Linked DNA regions of Homo sapiens: region 2 is linked to region 1. The links come from fine-mapping of genetic effects on gene expression. A gene starts in region 1. The other region holds a variant in brackets. All regions are shown on one strand. Distances are from middle to middle.

Region 1 (5,361 bases):
GGTGAGTTCACTGTGTTGCCTTTGTCGCATGGGTGAGGAGATGGGGCACAAAGGGGCTTTCCCCCAACAGGAAGGCCTTAGAAGGCTTCATGGAGCAAGAGTGCCAGATGGAAGGGCAGGGCAACTGTGTGAAGAGCTTAAGCAGAGCCTGGAGCAGCCATTGCAGCACAGAAGCTTCCAGGGAGGCAGATCTAGAGCTGCCCATGAGTTGGATCCAAGGGACCAGGTGATTGGCTGCATAGGGGAGATGGGGGAAGGAGCCCCACTCCTCAAACTGGAAGCCTCAGTTTTTTTTTTTTTTTTTTTTAGACAGAGTCTCGCTCTGTTGCCCAGGTTGCTATTTCTTTGTATTTTAGTAGAGACGGGGTTTCACAATGTTGGCCAGGATGGTCTCGATCTCCTGAACTCCTGATCCGCCCGCCTAGGCCTCCCGAAGTGCTGGGATGACAGGCGTGAGCCACCGCGCCCGGCCGGAAGCCTCAGTTTTTAGGAGGCCCAAGCCACTGTGCACGCTGAAAGCACTTCTAGAGAGAGACACTGCGCCCATGCTGGGGGGCGGGTGAAAACACCTACGGTGGCTCCCGCCATAGAGGAGGGTGGGGAAGGGACAGTGGGCACGCACCCGCTGCCAGATGGCCTCCTGGCCGCTCCAGGCCAGTGCCAGGTTGATGCCATTCAGCGCCATCCAGTCTATCTCTCGCTCCCAGCGGGCCCAGTCCCACCACACGAAAGAGTAGCTTTGCGTGCACACATTCTGGTAATAGCGGTACCTGCGGGCAGTGTCATGAGCAGGGGCGCATCCCACCCTGGAGGGTCCACGGCCCTGGAACAAATCCCCCATCCCCCACCTAGAGGAGAGGGGAGGGGCTCCAAACTCGGCCCTTCTGCTGCACACTGGGACCCACCCCAGGTGGAGCTGAGACCAGGTACCGGGGCTGGGCTTCTGAGGCACTCGTCCCCTGCACTCTCCCAGGGCCCTCTAGCCTGGCGGGTATTTGGGTGGCATATTCCACTTTCATGCCACACTGCCAGAGCCCCTCCTCTGCACGGTGTTTTCCTGGAACGGGGAATCCCTGCCCCCACAGTCTAACAGATGGGCAGGGGAGGACAGCTGTGTGAACACATCACTCCATAGTGTGGCAGGCGCTGGAACACAGGCCTGTAGGGTGGGGGATGGAGGCGTCCTTCCTCAGTCCGCAGGTTCAAAGAGAAGGTGGGGGAGGAAGGCAAGAAAATTCACTCATCACCAATTGTGCACCACAAATTCTATGCCCATCATCGTGCAAATCCTCACAATAACACTGCACGGTAGGCGTCTTCTTTCCGTTTTTCAGGTGGGCCAGCCGAGGCTCTGAAAGGCAGAGTGGCTGGCTCAAGGCCACACAGCTGCTGGAGGCGGCGCAGCTGGGCCTTCCGGCCAGCGCTCCCCGCTCAGCCTCCCGATTTGGGTGGCAGCGGCTCCGGGAGGGGGTAAGCGCCTCGGGCGGACGCGGGGAAGCTTCGGGGCGGTACCTGTTGGGCGTGGCCTCGGTCAGCTCCCCCGGCACGGCTGGCAGTGGCCGCGGCAGGCGCAGCTGAGAGCCGGACCAGGCCACGTGGCAGCCACAGAAGTCGCGCAGGTAGCGGTGCAGCCCCGCGGCGGCCGCCACGCCCGTGGAGCCGCGCACCCGCACGCGCGCCGCGCCGCCGCCGCCCAGGCTGTAGGTGTCCAAGCCCGGCTTGGCAGCCAGAGCGCGCTCCACCGACACGGAGAAGTCGGCCGCGGGGCCTGGCCCCAGCAGCCGGGCCACGAGCGCCCGCACGGCCGCCGCCTCCCGGGCCTCGTCGCCTGCCGCGCCCCCGGCCCCGGCCAGGAGAAGGACCCCCACCGCCGCGGCCACCGCCACCGCCTCCATGGTCTCAGTCCTGCGGGTCCCGCGACGGCCAGGGGGTGGGGCGGCCCGCGTCCAATCAGCTGCCGGCCTCCGGCCACGTGGACCCGAAGGCTAAGCCCGGGCTCAGGGCCAGGAGTCGCGGCTTCCGGGTACCAGGATACTCCCTTGGGGGCGTCTCGTGACCGCACGCGGTGGGGAGCGTGTGACCCCGGCTCCAGGGCCGAAGGGGACCCGCTGGCCCTCACAGAGCGCCTTCGGGTAAAACGCGCTTTCACACGCAAATAACTTCCATCCAACCATCTAATAAATACACATTTGGAGTTTATTTTGTATCAGGCACTGCCATAGCTACTTCCCTACTGATGAACGAGAAGACGGTCCCTACCGTCCCCGTCAGGGAGGTGACCTAGAAACCAGATATTTAACGTAAGTAAGGATTTCCATCATAGTTGTGATGCTGCGAAGTAGTGCAGTAAGTAGCGAAGTAGCGAAGTAAGGTTTCCAAAGGAAGTGACTTTTAATCTGAAACTCAGGGATGAATAGGAATTGGCTAGAAGAGGGAAAGGAAGAGCCTTCCAGACAGAAGAAATGCATTTATTGAAGGCCCTGAGAAGGCAGAGAGCTTGCAGATTTGAGTAACTAACAGGCTAGGAGGTTCGAGGAGGGATGGGGCCATGTGAGCCCAGGCCGGCGGTGGAGCAGGGCTGGCGGGCACGTTAAAGGCTGTCCATTGGCGGCAGCAGCAGCAACATAACAGGAGCTGTCATTTTGTCAGAAGTTTCCAACCAGAGCGACTCCATCTTGAACAGGGGCTGGGTAAAATGAGGCAGAGACCTGCTGGGCTGAATTCCCAGGAGGTTAGGCCTTCGTCACAGGATGAGACAGGAGGTCAGCACAAGATAAAAGGTCACAAGACCCCGCTGATAAAACAGAATGCAGCAAAGAAACTGGTCAAAACCTGCCAAAACCAAGACAGGAAGGTGACCTCTGATCGTCCTCACTGCTCATTATACGCTAATTATAATGCATTAGTATGCTAAAGACACTCCTAGCAGCGCCAGGCAGTTTACAAATGCCATGGCAACGTCCAGAAGTTACCCTATATGGTCTAAACAGTGGAGGAACCTTCAGTTGGGGGGGATCCCCACCCCTTTTCTGAAAAATTCATTACTAACCCACCCCTTGTTTATCATATAATCAAGAAATAACCATAAAAATAGCCAACCTTAGGCCAGGAGCGGTGGCTTACGCCTGTAATCCCAGCACTCTGGGAGGCTGAGGCTTGCAGATCACCTCAAGTCAGGGGTTTGAGACCAGCCTGGCCAACATACAGTGAAACCCCGTCTGTACTAAAAATACAAAAGTTAGCCAGGTGCTGGGCGCGGTGGCTCACGCCTGTAATCCCAGCACTTTGGGAGGCCAAGACGGGCGGATACGAGGTCAGGAGATCAAGACCCTCCTGGCTAACACGGTGAAACTCCATCTCTACTAAAAATACAAAAAATTAGCCGGGCGTGTTGGCGAGCGCCTGTACTCCCAGCTACTCGGGAGGCTAAGGCAGGAGAATGGCGTGAACCGGAGAGGCGGAGGTTGCAGTGAGCCAAGATCACACCACTGCACTCCAGCCTGGGGGACAGAGCAAGACTCCCTCTCAAAAAAAAAAAAAAGAAAAAAAGTTAGCCAGGCTTGGTGGCACACGCCTGTAGTCCCAGCTACTTGGGAAGCTGAGGCAGGAGAATCGCTTGAACGCTGGAGGTGGAAGTTGCAGTGAGCCAAGATCGTGCCATTTGCATTCCAGCCTGGATGACAGAGCGAGACTCCATATCAAAAAAACAAACAAACAAACAAAAAAAGTTGAAAGAGGCCTGGAATCAGATATCAACTTTAGATACTAGGGAAGTATGATTTTTTTTTTTAATCTCAGCTCACGGGAACCTCAGCCACCCAGGTTCAAGCCATTCTCCTGTCTCAGTCTCCTGAGTAGCTGGGATTACAGGCACGTGCCACCAAGCCCAGTTAACCTTTGTAGGGATGGGATTTCACCATGTTGTCCAGGCTGGTCTCGAACTCTTTTTTTTTCTTAAACATTTTATTCATTTTATAGAGAGATTTCTTGTTTGCTTTTGTTCTGATCATTAGGAGAGTGGTTGAGGAGTATTGAATCCATCACTACTTTGATGACACAGGTAAGAGTCCAGATTCACATTTCCAGGTACCAGGAGTTCCCTCTAAATGCCACAATCAAGTCAGCCTTCATTTACATTTCTTTCTGCTGAACACAGCAATGCCCATTGGTATCTCTGAAGCGTAATCGCATCTTAAGTAAAGCAGCTGTTTGGAATTTAACACTCCCCTTCTTTTTTGTCTTATAAACTGAACTGCATCTACGTACTTCATTCCACATTCAATCAAAGCAAGTGCAACCAGCACAGGTGCCCTTCCCAATTCCACAACGCAATGCACTGCAACACAGCAACCTGGCTCTTCACGAAATTTGGTGTTTAACAGGTTTAACCAATCATCTACTATCTGATTAGGGGATGGAGCTCCATCATCAAATGGCCAATCTAGAACGTGGATTCCTTCTTTTTCAACTGGAGCTTTATCATATGTAGCATCACAAACTCAAACCGAAGTCGTCACTCCATACTTCTTAAGTTCCTCTGTGAACTTGTTGAGAGTAGCATTGGTAGGGTTGTGAGTTATCAGAAAACACATGTTCTCATAGGAGATCTCCACAGGGGCTAGACGGTTCATTACGGCAAATAAAAAGTGTGAGCGTGCCTGTGAGTGTGATGGGGAAAGTGAAAAAAAAAATCAATAAATCTTGAAATGTTTAACAACAGAAAACATTAAAAAGACCATGAAAATGCCTATTATCAATCAGTGTTTTCTCTATTCAACTTGTTTATTCCTTATGAAGCTTCTCTCTTCAAGATAAGCAAAGTATTTAGAATCCACTTGAATCCAAATTCAATTTGGGCCTCAATTTCTGCAGATGGATACCTTCGGACTCCAAAAAACCCAACTACATACAAAACTGAAGCAGCCTTTACTACATTTAGGCACTAGTGAGACAAGTTAAAAGTGTAGGTCACTTTCCACTTGTTTACTTGATGCTTAATTTTACTGGAGTCATTCAAAGAAATATGCTTGCAATTAAAAAAAAAAAGCTGGCCGGACGCGGTGGCTCACGCCTGTAATCCCAGCACTTTGGGAGGCCGAGGCGGGCGGATCACGAGGTCAGGAAATCGAGACCATCCTGGCTAACACGGTGAAACCCCGTCTCTACTAAAAACACAAAAAATTAGCCGGGCGCAGTGACGGGCGTCTGTAGTCCCAGCTGCTCAGGAGGCTGAAGCAGGAGAATGGCCTGAACCCGGGAGGCAGAGCTTGCAGTGAGCCGAGATTGCGCCATTGCACTCTAGCCTGGGCGACAGAGGGAAACTCTCTCTCAAAAAAAAAAAAAAAAAAAAAAAAAAAGCTG
Region 2 (5,366 bases), 320 kb after region 1:
CTATCTCTAAGGGGGAAAAGAAACCTTTCTAAGCAGGTACGTGTAAGTACTAAGGACCTGTATATGATTTCTAATGTTCTATGCAGTTATTCACAGAGGTCTTCCTGAAACAGAGTACACTTAACGCCCCTTAGGTAGCCCTTATGGACAGAGCTTCCCTAGCCTGGTATAAATCCTGCTTAGTAGTTGGGGCACAGAGAGCTTCAGTCTGTGGTGAGGCTGTGGAGCCCCACCAGCGCCCCCTTTTGACCCTGTAGCAGTTTGGCAGTTTGAGCTTTAATAGTTTCCTCTCTGCTTCCATGCCCAGCTCAGTCTCAGAGAAGCCTTGGCTCAACCACCCAGCCCCTCCAAACACACACACACACAGCACACACAGACAACACAGCACACACACACACCACACACATCACACACACAGCACACACACACACAGCACACACACCCCCCACAGCACACAGAGACACACAGTGCACACACACAGCACACACACACCACACACAGCACACACACAGACACACAGCACACACACACCACACCACACACACCACACCACACACAGCACACACACACCACACCACACACAGCACACACACACCACACATAGCACACACACACACCACACATACACACCACACACACATAGACACACAGCACACACACACACACACAGCACATGCTCCTCTAATTCCATGTATGTAGGTTCCATTTTATGTCTATAGTGATACTACTTATTTACTCTTTATCTTCTCCACTGGAATATAAATCTTTGAGAAGGGACTATATCTTTTATCTCTGTACCCTGAGGCCAGCACAATGCCTGAAACATAACAGTTATTGAGTAAAGGTTGACAGGATGATTCTAGCCTGTCTTCCTTTTTTATCTGAATCCATCCTAGACTGGCCCTAGAAGAAGGGCAGCTCCTTCAGAGAATGGAAACGGAAGATTTGGGATGGCTATTCCTACCCAAGTCCTTAGACTGTCAACAGTATTTCTGATCCCGTGCCTGGCTTTTCTGTTTCCTGTGCATGGTGGCGGATTAGGTTTGGATTCAGGTTGGGTTTGGATCTATCACGCAGTGTCTTCTCAGTCCCATTTGTCAAGTTCACTCAGCAGAAACACAGACTATTGATCTGCTTTTGCCAGGGAAGGCTCAGCTGCCTCCAGTGGAGTAGGGAAATTGCTTCCCGTCTCCCTGGCCTCCTTCCCAAAAGCTTCTGCAAATTTCCAGGAGAGCCCTAAGTGGGTCCCTTGCATAGGAAGGCTGGGCCCAGGTGTTGGGATCACCACCACCCTCCCTGTGGCTGGGCAGGATTCCTGAGGTAGCCGTGCAGATACCTTGGATCTGTCCGTCCCTGGATGATCCTCTTCCTGCTCGATACCTGCAGTGAGATTGGAGCCATATTTCTGAGTTCTAGCTCTGGGCTGTTCCTGGCTACATAGAGTTGCTTTTGTCTGTCCCAGCTTGTGCATCCCATGGGTCAGGGCTGGGGTCAGAGTGACGTGGCCCTCAGGGGCCAGCCAGGAGCTCGACCAAGACATGCTGGTGCGCGCATCTTCTGACTCAGCTCAAGCAAGGACTCTGGGCTGTTGAGAAGGTGATGGGAAGGGATTAATAGTCCCAGTGTGGTGGAGACGGGCTGTCGCTGGGAGGGTGGGGTGGGCCTGCGGTGGTGGTTGTAACTGTGGACATGTTTACTTTCTTAGCCTGGGTTATTGATACACAGGTGCTCCTGTGTTCCACGTTCCCTGTGTCTTACCTATTTCATAATAATTTTTAAAAGGTAATGAGGCCTAACTTACTCCCTGTCCCGCCATCAATGAGACTCCTCACAGATGGTGTGGAGGGAAGCCGCCTCCCTTCGGCCTCCCTTTCCTGAGAGAATCTTGGTGGCTCTGCATCCCCAGTGGCCCTGGACATGCTCTCCCTCTGCGGTCTGTCTGTCTGTCCGTGTTCCCTGGTTGGTTGGCTGGGTTCACAGTGAGCTCACCTGGACAAACATGCTGGGCCCCTTCCAGCCTCTCAAGAATCTCATCCTCCCCTGAGGAGGGA[T/C]TGCTGTGCTCAGGGACTAGACAGAGCCGCCGGGGCTGGGTTTCCCTGAAGAGGCCTTGCTGCGGGAGGGATGGGGCCGAGCAGCTGCTTGTCTCTGTCACCTCTTCTCTCTGTCCTGTTCCCCGTTAACCAAGAAGCACGAACCTCACACAGAGCTCACCCATGTCAGGCAGCTTTCTGGCATCTTCCATGTCCTCATGTATTTAATCTTAATGCACCCCACTGAGGCAGGTGCCGAGAATCTCCCGTTTTACACGTGGGGAAGCCAAGGCACAGGAAAGGAAAGCGATTTGCCCAGGTTCACCTGCAGTCAAGGGCATGGGCACACTTACACCCCAGACAGCCTGGACCCATGCTGGGCCGCGAGAAGAGGGCTGGCAGCCCTGTGAGGCAGGCGGGCAGGAGGCAGGCAGGCCTCCTCCCCAGCTGCCCCAGCACCCGTGTGCCCCCAGAGGGGACGGCTCAGAGTCAGGAGGCTGGCGAGCAGGGCCCAGAGGCGCCTCCTGGGGCACCCATTCATCTTGGCCCCCCTGGCTGTCAGGAACCCCGACTTGCCCTTAATGCAGTATCTGAGCCCAGGAGGGTCTCGCTCCAGAACGGGTGAGTGGGCTTCTCTGGGCCTCCTGTTGGACACTGGGAGGTGATGGTCATGGTTTCCTCTCCCCTCCTCTAGCTCAGTTTGGCCCGCTGGCCCAGCTGAGCCCCCAGGAGCGTCTGAGCCGGGAGACGGCCCTCCAGCAGAAGCAGGTGTCTCTGGAGGCCTGGTTGCAGCGTGAGGCACAGACACTGCAGCAGTACCGCGTGGTGAGTGGGGTCCTGGGCCTCTCCTGGGCGTGGGTGCCATGAAGTCAGTCTCTGGGGACCCGAGGGAGGGCTGGGACCAGCATGAGAGCAGAACCTGGGAGGGCAGGAGGCCTTTTTTCCTGGGGGCCTTGCGAGGCAGAGCAGCTTGGGGAGAGGGAACGGCCTGGGCCCTGCCCTGCCATTTCCCAGCGAGGCCCTGCGGTGTTCTCTGGGAGCCCAGAAGGGGCTGCTCTCCTCCCTTCCCTCAGGAGCTGGCCGAGAAGCACCAGAAGACCCTGCAGCTGCTGCGGAAGCAGCAGACCATCATCCTGGATGACGAGCTGATCCAGTGGAAGCGGCGGCAGCAGCTGGCCGGGAACGGCGGGCCCCCCGAGGGCAGCCTGGACGTGCTACAGTCCTGGTAATGGTGTGGGGCGGCCAGCGGGCAGGGCAGGAGGGGCTGGTGGGGATCCCGGCTGCTTCTGCGTCCTGTGCTGGCTCCTGCAGCAGGCCCCCTCCATCCTGGGACAGCTCTTGTTTCTCCAGGGAGCCTGGTTCCTCAATCAGACTTTGGCCCCCATCCTGTGCACCTCCCCCAGGAAGGGGGCTGCTGTCCTGGAGATGGGACAGGGTTCGGGTGTGTGGGGTGATGCTTGGGCTGTTTGGGCCTAGTCAGGGTCGCCCCTCCTGTGTACGTCTCTAATTCTGGGAGGCAGGGAGCTCTGCTCTTCCCATGGGTGGGAAGTGTGGCGAAAGCACAGAGCCTTCCTGGGGGAACGGGAGCTGTGTCTTGGGGCCTGGCGTCTGTGCGGAGGAGCCATTGTCCTCCTGTTGGCCTTGGGGCTCTCGTGCAGGTGTGAGAAGTTGGCCGAGATCATCTGGCAGAACCGGCAGCAGATCCGCAGGGCTGAGCACCTCTGCCAGCAGCTGCCCATCCCCGGCCCAGTGGAGGAGATGCTGGCCGAGGTCAACGCCACCATCACGGACATTATCTCAGCCCTGGTGACCAGGTGACTGCTGCCTGTTTGCCATGCCCAGGAGCTTGGGGCAGCTCCTGCCTGCGTGGGGGGAGCCGCAGGTGCCTTCCAGACCAGCAGATCCACTTCCTGCCTCTCATCCCTCCCAACTCCATCTCCAGTTGCTGTGGCCCTTGCCCAGTTTCTCCTGTGGACACTGCAAGAGATGCCCTTGGGCTGCAGCCCATGCCAGCTTCTGTGTTATCTCACTCCCCTCTCCATCCTCTCCCTGGACTCTCACGGCTTCCCCAGGAACAGAGGCTGTGCCCGAGCTCTTCACCTCCTGAGCCCCTCGGGAGGCAGCCCCACCCCCACCACAGAGGGACTGAGAGCCCTTTCCCCTGCACCAGCCCCTCATCATGCATCTGTCCCTGTGTCCCCTGCAGCACGTTCATCATTGAGAAGCAGCCTCCTCAGGTCCTGAAGACCCAGACCAAGTTTGCAGCCACTGTGCGCCTGCTGGTGGGCGGGAAGCTGAACGTGCACATGAACCCCCCCCAGGTGAAGGCCACCATCATCAGTGAGCAGCAGGCCAAGTCTCTGCTCAAGAACGAGAACACCCGCAAGTAATTGTGCAGCTTCCTCTCATTCCCTGCTACTTGTCTCATGTCCTGGCAACAGGAAAAAAAGAATTCTGCCTCCTGTGTCAGATCCCTGTTTGCCCTTCTGGCCTCTTCTGGGCATCAGCAAAGGAATATAAGGAAGTTCTTGGGCCTGGTGTGGTGGCTCACACCTGTAATCCAAGCACTTTAAGAGGCCGAGGTGGGCAGATCACCTGAGGTCAGGAGTTCAAGACCAGCCTGGCCAACATGGTGAAACCCTGTCTCTACTAAAAATACAAAAAATTAGCCGGGCGTGGTGGCAGGCACCTGTAATCCCAGCCACTAGAGAGCCTGAGGCAGGAGAATCCCTTGAACCTGGGAGGCAGAGATTGCAGTGAGCTGAGATTGCAGTGAGCTGAGATCACGCCACTGCACTCCAGCCTGGGCAACAAGAGCAAAACTCCGTCACAAAAAAAAAAAAAAAAGTTCTCTTAGGAACTGTTTTCTGTGAAGATAGTTTGATCTTGTTTCATTTTGTAGAGATACGTCCGAGAAGATTACATGTATGTGTTATGTAGCTAACATTTCCTCTAAATGACGTACATTTTTAGCAAACTTCTCTATTTCCTGCTACCCCAAATTATATTATTTACTCCGCATGTCCTGAGACCCTGGCATGGGTTTGGAGCTGGTCTCTCTCTGATTTGCAGTGATTACAGTGGCGAGATCTTGAACAACTGCTGCGTCATGGAGTACCACCAAGCCACAGGCACCCTTAGTGCCCACTTCAGGAATATGGTGAGGGTGGAAGAAGAGGAAGAATGAATTTTTCCCTGGTCTTTGAGGGGAACAACTTATATCTTACGTTTCATCTTATGTTTCTTCTTTGTAGTCCCTGAAACGAATTAAGAGGTCAGACCGTCGTGGGGCAGAGTCGGTGACAGAAGAAAAATTTACAATCCTGTTTGAATCCC

Evidence for each region. PIP is the estimated chance that this variant, and not a neighbour inherited with it, causes the effect.
Region 2: its variant is fine-mapped to the expression of NAGLU in fibroblasts (GTEx, PIP 0.98).

The regions. Positions count from the first base shown.
Region 1 is chr17:42,532,807-42,538,167 of GRCh38, reverse strand. NAGLU (N-acetyl-alpha-glucosaminidase) reads right to left here and starts at 1,927. Exons shown (of 6, transcript NM_000263.4): 1 at 1,513-1,927; 2 at 623-770. The coding sequence starts at 1,895. It also overlaps the pseudogene PTP4A2P1. RefSeq lists silencers at 1,425-1,494, 1,615-2,024 and enhancers at 884-1,621, 2,135-2,214.
Region 2 is chr17:42,217,201-42,222,566 of GRCh38, reverse strand. It overlaps STAT5B (signal transducer and activator of transcription 5B), which reads left to right. Exons shown (of 19, transcript NM_012448.4): 6 at 2,725-2,855; 7 at 3,104-3,255; 8 at 3,689-3,844; 9 at 4,237-4,416; 10 at 5,103-5,190; 11 at 5,285-5,366. Among named protein-coding and RNA genes, the nearest start is that of GHDC, 25 kb to the right of the region's middle. The variant T/C (reference allele first, on the strand shown) is at 2,052.